Regions from separate parts of the Homo sapiens genome. Here region 2 is linked to region 1. The links come from fine-mapping of genetic effects on gene expression. A gene starts in region 1. The other region holds a variant in brackets. All regions are shown on one strand. Distances are between the middles of the regions.

The links. PIP is the estimated chance that this variant, and not a neighbour inherited with it, causes the effect. A credible set is the group of variants that fine-mapping cannot tell apart.
Region 2: its variant is the best candidate, but not a certain one, in a credible set for the expression of TLR8 in blood mononuclear cells (TOPMed, PIP 0.87).

What each region holds. Positions count from the first base shown.
Region 1 is chrX:12,903,804-12,909,185 of GRCh38, forward strand. It overlaps TLR8 (toll like receptor 8), which reads left to right and starts at 2,817. Exons shown (of 2, transcript NM_138636.5): 1 at 2,817-2,906. The coding sequence starts at 2,904. TLR8-AS1 (TLR8 antisense RNA 1) reads right to left here. Exons shown (of 5, transcript NR_030727.1): 3 at 4,413-4,530; 4 at 2,387-2,448; 5 at 1-182.
Region 2 is chrX:12,939,491-12,944,872 of GRCh38, forward strand. It overlaps TLR8-AS1 (TLR8 antisense RNA 1), which reads right to left and starts at 3,810. Exons shown (of 5, transcript NR_030727.1): 1 at 3,688-3,810; 2 at 2,728-2,844. The variant C/T (reference allele first, on the strand shown) is at 2,643.

The DNA of each region.
Region 1 (5,382 bases):
GGGTTGCACGTTATTTCCATATGTGGTACTTCGCGGCAGCCCCAGTATGGGGAAGCCATTTGCTGCCTTATGAATTGTCTGGTCATCCACTCGAGAGGAAAGGGCTGTGTCCAGGGCTGGGGAAGGCCCCAAGAGTGGTTCTTCAGGCCTACTGTTGGCAACAGCCCAGGAATGTGTGAAGTCTGTAACAACAAGCGTAGTAATAATAATTCCAGCTCTGCTAGTTGAACGCTCACTTTGTGCCAGCTACTTTTCTAAGAGTTCCACGATATGAACAATTTAATCCTCAAAGCCAACATCTGAGAAAGATACTACTATTCTTATCCCAATTTGACAGATGAGAAAACTAAGGCTCAGAGAGGCTTGTCTGCTGGTGATTTGTGTGTCTGGGAAGTGCACGTTGTCTGGCAGGCTTGCCTGGCAGAAGCGGTTCATGACAGGTCTTCTCCATTTTGGAATCAAGATCTGTGTCAGCATGGATGGCAAGGGGAAGAGTAAGGAAAGATTGGTCTAGGAGATGCCCAGGAGCTTTTGGCCTCACAGTGCAGGGTGGGGAGAGCAGACCTGGCCACCAAGGACCAGTTTCTGGGCTTGGGCAGAAGCCAATCATCTGGCTACTTTACAAGCAGATGGAGCTTCTTCCTCTCAGTAACCTTCCTGCCCTGGTGTCAATTCCATTTTCATTTTCATCTTTTATGGTACTGGTTGTGTGGAGAAAACTGAAGGCTCATTTGGTATAAGTAAGTAACTCATTTTTATGAGTTTGCTTGACATAGATACTAGACTGTATGTGTGTATATATACATATAAACATGCATATGTACATAAAAAATATATATATATCATATATACATGATGATACACACACACACACACACACACACACACACACATATATATATATACGTATACAAGCATGCTTTACAAGGCCAATTGACTGGTCTACAATTGGCTGACACTTGGTGGCCTAGAAGCCAGGGTATGTGAGTCTCGCTTTTCTAGAAAGCTGACAAACTCTCCAGTTCCAAGGATCCTTGCTCAGTCAACGGCTGGAAGTCATTTTTACTTCGCTGTTTTTTGTTTGTTTGTTTGTTTGTTTTTTTAGACAAAGTCTCATTCTGTCACCCAGGCTAGAGTGCAGTGGCACTATCATGGCTCACTGCAATCTCCACCTCCTGGGCTCAAGCGATCCTCCCACCTCAGCCACCCGAGTAACTGGGACTACAGGTGCACACCACCATGCCTGGCTAATTTTTGTATTTTTTTAGAGACAAGGTTTTGCCATGTTGCCCGGGTTGGTCTCAAACCCCTGAGCACAAGTGATCCTCCTGCCTCGGCCTCTACAAAGTGCTGGAATTACAGGTGTGAGCCACTGCACTCGATCCATTCTTACTTACTTTCTTTACTTTATTTCCAAGCAAATGTTTGGAGGGAAACCAAGAGACTTGGATGCGGCCAGCCGAGGCCTTTGGGTTTACAATCACAAATGTTTTTGGTTTGCCCATGAAGGCCCAGGCTGCACTCTCTGATGTCACAGGAATCACCTCTCAAACCATGCACCAGGTCTTGAATTCCCTTAGGGTGTGATCTTTAGAGGTCCATCTAGGTATACCCACCCAAGCCATTCTTTGACTGCTGACAGGCCTTCCTTCATAACAAGGTGTTCCACAGTCCATTTATATATGGATGTCATCTCTGCCCACCCTGCTGCCAATTTGGTTTTCTCCCACTCCTGGGGTGTAAGGCAAGATGAAACATATCACATCCCGTTCTAAACTTTATTCTTGTGGCCAGGGGTCAGCAAACTTTTTCTGTAAAGGGCCAGATGGCAAATATCTTAGGTTTTACAGGCCAAGAAGCAAATTTGGCATATTATGTAGCTACTTATATAGTAAAATAAAAATTTCCACAATTATGTAATTGATGAAACTCAAAATGTAATAATAATAATCGAAGGCAGTTTTTTTGTAGTATAGGTTTAATAATGAGAAGAATGGAATCATTTTTGGAGGTGCTAACATTCTGCTTGGTTGGAATTTAAAGTTAGTGTTCTGTATCAGCAAATCCATTGCCAATGTTCATCTAAAAATGTTTTCACTTCTGGGCCGGATTTCGTTCAAAGGCTGCAGTTTGCTGACCTCTGCTCTTGGTTACACCTTTTGAGGCCCTTGCTCTCCGAGCATAAAATGGAATCCATTTATCAGACTAAATCGGGAAGATTAAATTTTCCAGCCTCACGAATGCTCAGCCATTGACTCACTCGTTCATACAATGAACACTCATTGAGCTTATACTACATGCCAGGTGCTGGAGGAGGCATGGGGCGCCCAGGAGAAAGATGCTCGCTTTGCGGCCACAGCCCAGTGGGAGGGAGACCCATACCTACCGGTGCTGTCTCAGAAACTTGTGGAACAAAGATGAAGCAATGTTCATGTTATTCGCCTACATCTGTGAATTACACAAGGAAGACGAGTTTGAGAAATCCGAAGTTCAGTACAAATTTATGGTAACTTTTTTAAAAAAGAATACACTGAAGTTTTCTTAGTGAATGGAATAATGTTCCCTTTTTCTCCCCTGTACACACAAATACACAAAAACTAACAAAAATACGTCGTGTGTGTCTGATTTGGGTTGTATTTAAATCATTTCATAAATGACTTTTTCCCATAACTTCAGTTTCAAAGTTTTAAAGCACAGTCAATTAATGATTTGGCAACAGCTAAGAAATCACAAGTTCCCTTCTTTTCATGTAAACTTCTGTAAAACACACGCTACGTTCTGCTGATGGTAAATAGAGCCATTTCAGGAAGTTAGCCAGTTTCTCTTCTCGGCCACCTCCTGCATAGAGGGTACCATTCTGCGCTGCTGCAAGTTACGGAATGAAAAATTAGAACAACAGAAACATGGTAAGCCACTTCTATTTCTTTAGCAAAGCTTTCCAACAGAATATGGGGTTTCTGACCCAGAAATCTGGGTTGGTGGCAAATGGTGTGAGCCTAGAAAGTAATAAATGGGCAAATAAGGATAAAAATTAAAGATCGAAACAACTGTAAATGCAGGTAAAGCGGCTTGCTATGATCTTTAATTTGTGCACACGTTAGTATAAAGGAATTAGAGAGTAAATTTTGAAAATCAAATGCAGTGATGATCTTACTAATTTGGACAGGAAAATAAGAAAATTTCAAGTTAGAAATTGAACTGGAAATATTACTTACTGGCCCTACCAGAGACAATATCCTCTTCCAGAACAACAGGGTTGGAAGAGAAGGTGAGGGAAATATTCTTCCTTTGCTATTTCTGTAGAAAAGGACAAACTCTCTTCCTTCACATACATAGGTCAATTGCTAGATCCTAGTGAAGCCTGAGCTTAACCTACTGTTGGAGGCTTAAAGTTCGACATTAATTGCTACTTTTCTTGGTCAGAGTTTTAAATAATTAGGTTGGTACAAAAAACTGTGATTACTTTTCCACCAACCTAATAACATGCTACAATTTCTGTAATTATTATTTTACACTGTCAAGACATAGCAGGTGGTCCGTTTTTGTTATTGTCAAGAACTGTCAGACTAAAAATGAACTTTACACTTCTTTTTAAATGATACATTTTCTAGAAAATTCAATGAGGTTTAAGAGCAATTGAAAAGTCTGATTTCAAGAGAGTCTCATCCAAAATGTACTATATATTTTTCCCCAAAGTCCTTGGAGTTAATTTTGACAACAATTTAAAGTACACTTAAGTCTTTTGAAGTTAATGGGTCTGCCACCCAGGTTGGAGTGCAGTGGCGTGATCTCAGCTCACTGCAACCTCCGCCTCCCGGGTTCAAGCGATTCTCCTGCCTCAACCTCCCAAGTAGCTGGGACTACAGGTGTGTGCCACCACGCCTGGCTAATTTTTGTATTTTTAGTAGAGACGGGGTTTCTCCATGTTGGCCAGGCTGGTCTCGAACTCCTGACCTCAGGTGATCCGCCTGTCTCAGCCTCCCAAAGTGCTGGGATTACAGGCATGAGCCACCGCGCCCGGCCTGAAGTTAATTTTTATACCCACCTAATGTTCATTATGGATCTTGAAGGTAAATTAATTCTGCACTAAAATTTTACAATGCTTTACAAAATGACTGTAGGTGGCCCATATGGAATTCGGTCAACTGGGCCAATGACACATATGGGATTGCAGTTGAAATTATCCAATTCCTACTTGATATTTGTAAGCTGCTGTGATAGCCAGTATAATTGTACTGTAAGAATGTGGTAAATAGCCGGGGCCCGGTGGCTCACGCCTATAATCCCAGCACTTTGGGAAGCCGACGTGGGCGGATCACTTGAGGTCAGTAGGTAGAGACCAGCCCGGTCAACACGGCAAAACCTCGTCTCTACTAAAAATACAAAAATTAGCCAGGTGTGGTGGTACGCACCTGTAGTCCCAGCTACTCAGGAGGCTGAGGCAGGAGAATCGCTTGAGCCCATGAGGTGGATGTTGCAGTGAGCAAAGATCGCACCATTGTACTCCAGCCTGGGCAACGGAGTAAGACTCTGTTTCAAAACAACAACAACAACAACAACAACAGATTGGTAAATAGAGTAATAATAAAATCAAATTAAACTTGCAAAAAATGGCCACTTTGCTCCCACTGGTGGCCAATGGAGGTCAAGGACCTGGCTGACCTCCTGCCTAAAGGCAGAGGTTGTTAGCCTTCGCAATGGACTCAAATCAGAGGGGGAGCTTTCAAAACTCCTGCTGCCCAGACTGAACCCCAGATCAATGAAACCAAAATCTCTGGATACAGGGCTTGGCATTTGTAGCTTTTAGAGTTCCTAAGTATCTCTACTGTGCAGCCAAAGTTAAGAATCAGTGCCTTAGAACATCAACAGTTTTTTGGTCCTTTTGTTAAAAAGCACAGTCCGTTTTTTTAGGTGGCTAGAAATGCTCCAGGAAGAGCTGAAATGTATTTACCAGCCACCTTGGTTTGATTTTAGAAAGCAAAATAGAAGTTCTAAGTATGCTTTCTCTGAAAAGCTGAGACTGCAGATAAGAGTGAGGGCAGTTGATGGAGTTCATTCTCCTCTTTCAATCACTGCTTCTCATCCTTTCATTATAATAATCTAAGAATCTCAGAGATTATGAAAGAGAAAGCAGTCTTATGGAAGACCCCAGACTCACAGAATATTAGGGTGTGTTTCACAGGGAAGGATGTCATTACCCACAGTTAGTCTTTGAAACGCAGTTGGACATTATTTGTAAGTGCATCATAGTGTCGCCTCCAGGTTCCATTGAGGGGAACGTCATTCCAATGCAACATCTCTGAGTTCATCTGGGTTATTAAATGGGGTTGAGGGATTTGTTATTTTTAAATTAGTAGCCCCAATTTAGGACTACTCAAGACC
Region 2 (5,382 bases), 36 kb after region 1:
TTGCTGATATTTCAAAAGTAACACAAATATCAAACCAGAAAGGGCTTTAGAAACCAAACCCAGACTGTCTTGATGAAAAAAAAGTGGGGGCAGAAGCTTAGCTATGGAACTGCTGCATGGGGCGACAGCCATTACTCTTTCAGTTTGGCTTGGCTAACAAAAACTGGCCTTATTATGTAAATAAAGCCCTCAGGGTAGTCAAAATCAAGAACCTTTCTCTTTTATCCCCTTTTGCTGGACTGTTTTTCCTTCTCCCTGCTTTTTTTTTTTTTTTTTCCAGCTGTGGAATTTAGCCAATTCAGAGGTCTTGTTCCCCGTAATGTGGAACTTTCCTTCAGATTTGATCAAGTTGGATAGAGTTGGTCAAACCCAATTGTCAGGCCTCTGAGCTCAAGCTAAGCCATCATATCCCCTGTGATCTGCACGTACACATCCAGATGGCTGGTTCCTGCCTTAACTGATGACATTCCACCACAAAAGAAGTGAAAATGGCCTGTTCGTGCCTTAACTGATGACATTGTCTTGTGAAATTCCTTCTCCTGGCTCATCCTGGCTCAAAAGCTCCCCCACTGAGTACCTTGTGACCCCCCACTCCTGCCCGCCAGAGAACAATTCCCTTTGACTGTAATTTTCCTTTATCTACCCAAATCCTATAAAACGGCCCCACCCTTATCTCCCTTCGCTGACTCTCTTTTTGGACTCAGCCCACCTGCACCCAGGTGAAATAAACAGCCTTGTTGCTCACACAAAGCCTGTTTGGTGGTCTCTTCACAGGGACACGCATGAAATTTGGTGCCGTGACTTGGATCGGGGGACCTCCCTTGGGAGATCAATCCCCTGTCCTCCTGCTCTCTGCTCTGTGAGAAAGATGCACCTACGACCTCAGGTCCTCAGACCGACCAGCCCAAGAAACATCTCACTAATTTCAAATCTGGTAAGCGGCCTCTTTTTACTCTCTTCTCCAACCTCCCTCACTATCCCTCAACCTCTTTCTCCTTTCAATCTTGGCGCCACACTTCAATCTCTCCCTTCTCTTAATTTCAATTCCTTTCATTTTCTGGTAGAGACAAAGGAGACATGCTTTATCCATGGACCCAAAACTCTGGTGCCGGTCACGGACTGGGAAGGCAGCCTTCCCTTGGTGTTTAATCATTGCAGGGATGCCTCTCTGATTATTCACCCACGTTTCAGCGGTGTCAGACCACCCAGGGATGCCTGCCTTGGTCATTCATGCTTAGCGGCAAGTTCCGCTTTTCTGTGGGAGGGGCAAGTACCCCAACCCCTTCTCTCCGTGTCTCTACCCCTTCTCCACTTTTCTGGGGGAGGGGCCAGAACCCCTCAACCCCTTCTCCTTCACCCTTAGTGGCAAGTCCCGCTTTTCTAGGGGGCAAGAATCCCCAATCCCTTATTTCCGTGCCCCGACCTCTCATCTCTGCACCTCAACCCCTTATTTCCGTGCCCCGACCCCTTTCCCGCTTTTCTGGAGGTTAAGAACCCTCGAACCCCTTCCCTCCATGTCTCTACTCTCTCTTTTCTCTGGGCTTGCCTCCTTCACTATAGGCAACCTTCCACCCTCCATTCCTCCGTCTCCCTTAGCCTGTGCTCTCAAGAACTTAAAACCTCTTCAACTCACACCTGACCTAAAACCTAAATGCCTTATTTTCTTCTGCAATGCCGCTTGACCCCAATACAAACTTGACAGTGGTTCCAAATAGCCAGAAAATGGCACTTTCAATTTTTCCATTCTACAAGATCTAAATAATTCTTGTCATAAAATGGGCAAATGGTCTGAGGTGCCTGACTTCCAAGCATTGTTTTACACATTGGTCTCTCCCTAGTCTCTGTGCCCAGTGCAACTTGTCCCAAATCTTCCTTCTTTCCCTCCCGCCTGTCCCCTCAGTCCCAACCCCAAGTGTTGCTGAGTCTTTCTAATCTTCCTTTTCTACAGACCCATCTGACCTCTCCCCTCCTCCCCAGGCTGCTCCTTGCCAGGCCGAGCTAGGTCCCAATTCTTCCTCAGCCTCCGCTCCTCCACCCTATAATCTTTTTATCACCTCCCCTCCTCACACCCGGTCTGGTTTACAGTTTCATTCCGTGAGTGGCCCTCCCCGACCTGCCCAGCAATTTCCTCTTAAAAAGGTGGCTGAAGCTAAAGGCATAGTCAAGGTTAATGCTCCTTTTTCTTTATCAGATGTCTCCCAAATCAGTGAGCATTTAGGCTCTTTCATCAAATATGAAAAACCCAGCCCAGTTCATGGCTCGTTCGGCAACAACCCTGAGACGCTTTACAGCCCTAGACCCTAAAAGGTCAAAAGGCCGTCTTATTCTCAATATACATGTTATTACCCAATCCGCTCCTGACATTAAATAAAACTCCAAAAATTAAATTCCGGCCCTCAAACCCCACAACAGGACTTAATTAACCTCGCCTTCAAGGTGTACAATAATAGAGACAGCCAAGTAGCAACATATTTCTGAGTTGCAATTCCTTGCCTCCACTGTGAGACAAACCCCAGCCACATCTCCAGCACACAAGAACTTCCAAACGACTAAACCGCAGTAGCCAGGCATTCCTCCAGAACCGCCTCCCCCAGGAGCTTGCTACAAGTGCCAGAAATCTGGCCACCAGGCCAAGGAATGCC[C/T]GCAACCCAGGATTCCTCCTAAGCCGTGTCCCATCTGTGCGGGACCCCACTGGAAATTGGATGGAAATCGGACTGTTCAACTCACCTGGCAGCCACTCCCAGAGACCCTGGAACTCTGGCCCAAGGCTCTCTGACTGACTCCTTCCCAGATCTTCTCGGCTTAGCGGCTGAAGACTGACGCTGCCTGATTGCCTCAGAAGCCCTGTAGACCATCACAGATGCCAAGCTTTAGGTAACTCTCACAGTGGAGGGTAAGTCCGTCCCCTTCTTAATCAATACGGAGGCTACCCACTCCACATTACCTTATTTTCAAGGGCCTGTTTCCCTTGCCTCCATAACTGTTGTGGGTATTGACGGCCAGGCTTCTAAACCTCTTAAAACTCCCCAACTCTGGTGCCAACTTAGACAATACTCTTTTAAGCACTCCTTTTTAGTTATCCCCACCTGCCCAGTTCCCTTATTAGGCCGAGACACTTTAACTAAATTATCTGCTTCCCTGACTATTCCTGGGCTACAGCCACACCTCATTGCCACCTTTTCCCCTAGCTCAAAGCCTCCTTCACATCCTCCCCTTGTATCTCCCCACCTTAACCCACAAGTATAAGACACCTCTACTCCCTCCTTAGCGACCGATCATGCACCCCTTACCATCCCATTAAAACCTCATCACTCTTACCCCGCTCAATGCCAATATCCCATCCCACAGCATGCTTTGAAAGGACTAAAGCCTGTTATCACTCGCCTGCTACAGCATGGCCTTTTAAAGCCTATAAACGCTCCTTACCATTCCCCCATTTTACCTGTCCTAAAACCAGACAAGGCTTACAGGTTAGTTCAGAATCTGCGCCTTATCAACCAAATTGTTTTGCCTATCCACCCCGTGGTGCCAAACCTATATACTCTCCTCAATGCCTCCCTCTACAACCCATTATTCTGTTCTGGATCTCAAACGTGCTTTCTTTACTATTCCTTTGTACCCTTCATCCCAGCCTCTCTTCGCTTTCGCTTAGACTGACCCTGACACCCATTAGGCTCAGGAAATTACCTGGGCTGTACTGCCGCAAGGCTTCACAGGCAGCCCCCATTACTTCAGTCAAGCCCAAATTTCATCCTCGTCTGTTACCTATCTTGGCATAATTTTCATAAAAACACACGTGCTCTCCCTGCTGATCGTGTCCGATTAATCTCCCAAACCTCAATCCCTTACAAAACAACAACTCCTTTCCTTCCTAGGCATGGTTAGTGTGGTCAGAATTCTTACACAAGAGCCAGGACCGCACCCTGTAGCCTTTCTGTCCAGACAACTTGACCTTACTGTTTTAGCCTAGCCCTCATGTCTGTGGGCAGCGGCTGCCGCTGCTTTAATACTTTTAGAGGTCCTAAAAATCAAACTATGCTCAACTCACTCTCTACATTTCTCATAACTTCCAAAATCTATTTTCTTCCTCATACCTGATGCATATACTTTCTGCTCCCCGGCTCCTTCAGCTGTACTCACTCTTTGTTAAGTCCCACAATTACCATTGTTCCTGGCCCAGACTTCAATCCGGCCTCCCACATTATTCCTGATACCACACCTGACCCCCATGACTGTATCTCTCTGATCCACCTGACATTCACCCCATTTCCCCATATTTCCTTCTTTCCTGTTCCTCCCCCGATCACGCTTGATTTATTGATGGCAGTTCCACCAGGCCTAATCGCCACACACCAGCAAAGGCAGGCTATGCTATAGTACAAGCCACTAGCCTGCCTCTTAGAATCTCTCCTCATTTTCTTTCCATTGTGGAAATCTATCATCAAGGAAATAACTTCTCAGTGTTCCGTCTGCTATTCTACTACTCCTCAGGGATTATTCAGGCCCCCTCCCTTCCCTACACATTAAGCTCGAGGATTTGCCCCCACCCAGGACTGGCAAATTAGCTTTACTCAACATGCCCCGAGTCAGATAACTAAAATACCTCTTAGTCTAGGTAGACACTTTCACTGGATAGGTACAGGCCTTTCCTACAGGGTCTGAGAAGGCCACCGCAGTCATTTCTTCCCTTCTGTCAGACATAATTCCTCAGTTTAGCCTTCCCACCTCTATACAGTCTGATAACAGACCAGCCTTTATTAGTCAAATCAGCCAAGCAGTTTTTCAGGCTCTTAGTATTCAAGGAAACCTTTATGTCCCTTACGGTCCTCCGTCTTCAGGAAAAGTAGAACGGACTAAAGGTCTTTTAAAAACACACCTCACCAAGCTCAGCCACCAGCTTAAAAAGGACTGGACAATACTTTTACCACTTTTCCTTCTCAGAAGTCAGACCTGTGCTCAGAATGCTACAGGGTACAGCCCATTTGAGCTCCTGTATAGACGCTCCTTTTTATTAGGCCCCAGTCTCATTCCAGACACCAGACCAACTTAGACTGTGCCCCAAAAAACTTGTCATCCCTACTATCTTCTGTCTAGTCATACTCCTATTCACCGTTCTCAACTACTCATACATGCCCTGCTCTTGTTTACACTGCCGGTTTACACTGTTTCTCCAAGACATCACAGCTGATATCTCCTGGTGCTATCCCCAAACTGCCACTCTAAACTCTTGAAGTAAATAAATAATCTTTACTGGCAAGGCTATGCTGAACCTCCTTAGGCACTCTCTAATTAGATGTCCTAGGTCCTCCCAATTCTTAGTCCTTTAATACCTGTTTTCTCCTTCTCTTATTCCGTTTAGTTTTTCAATTCATACAAAACTGT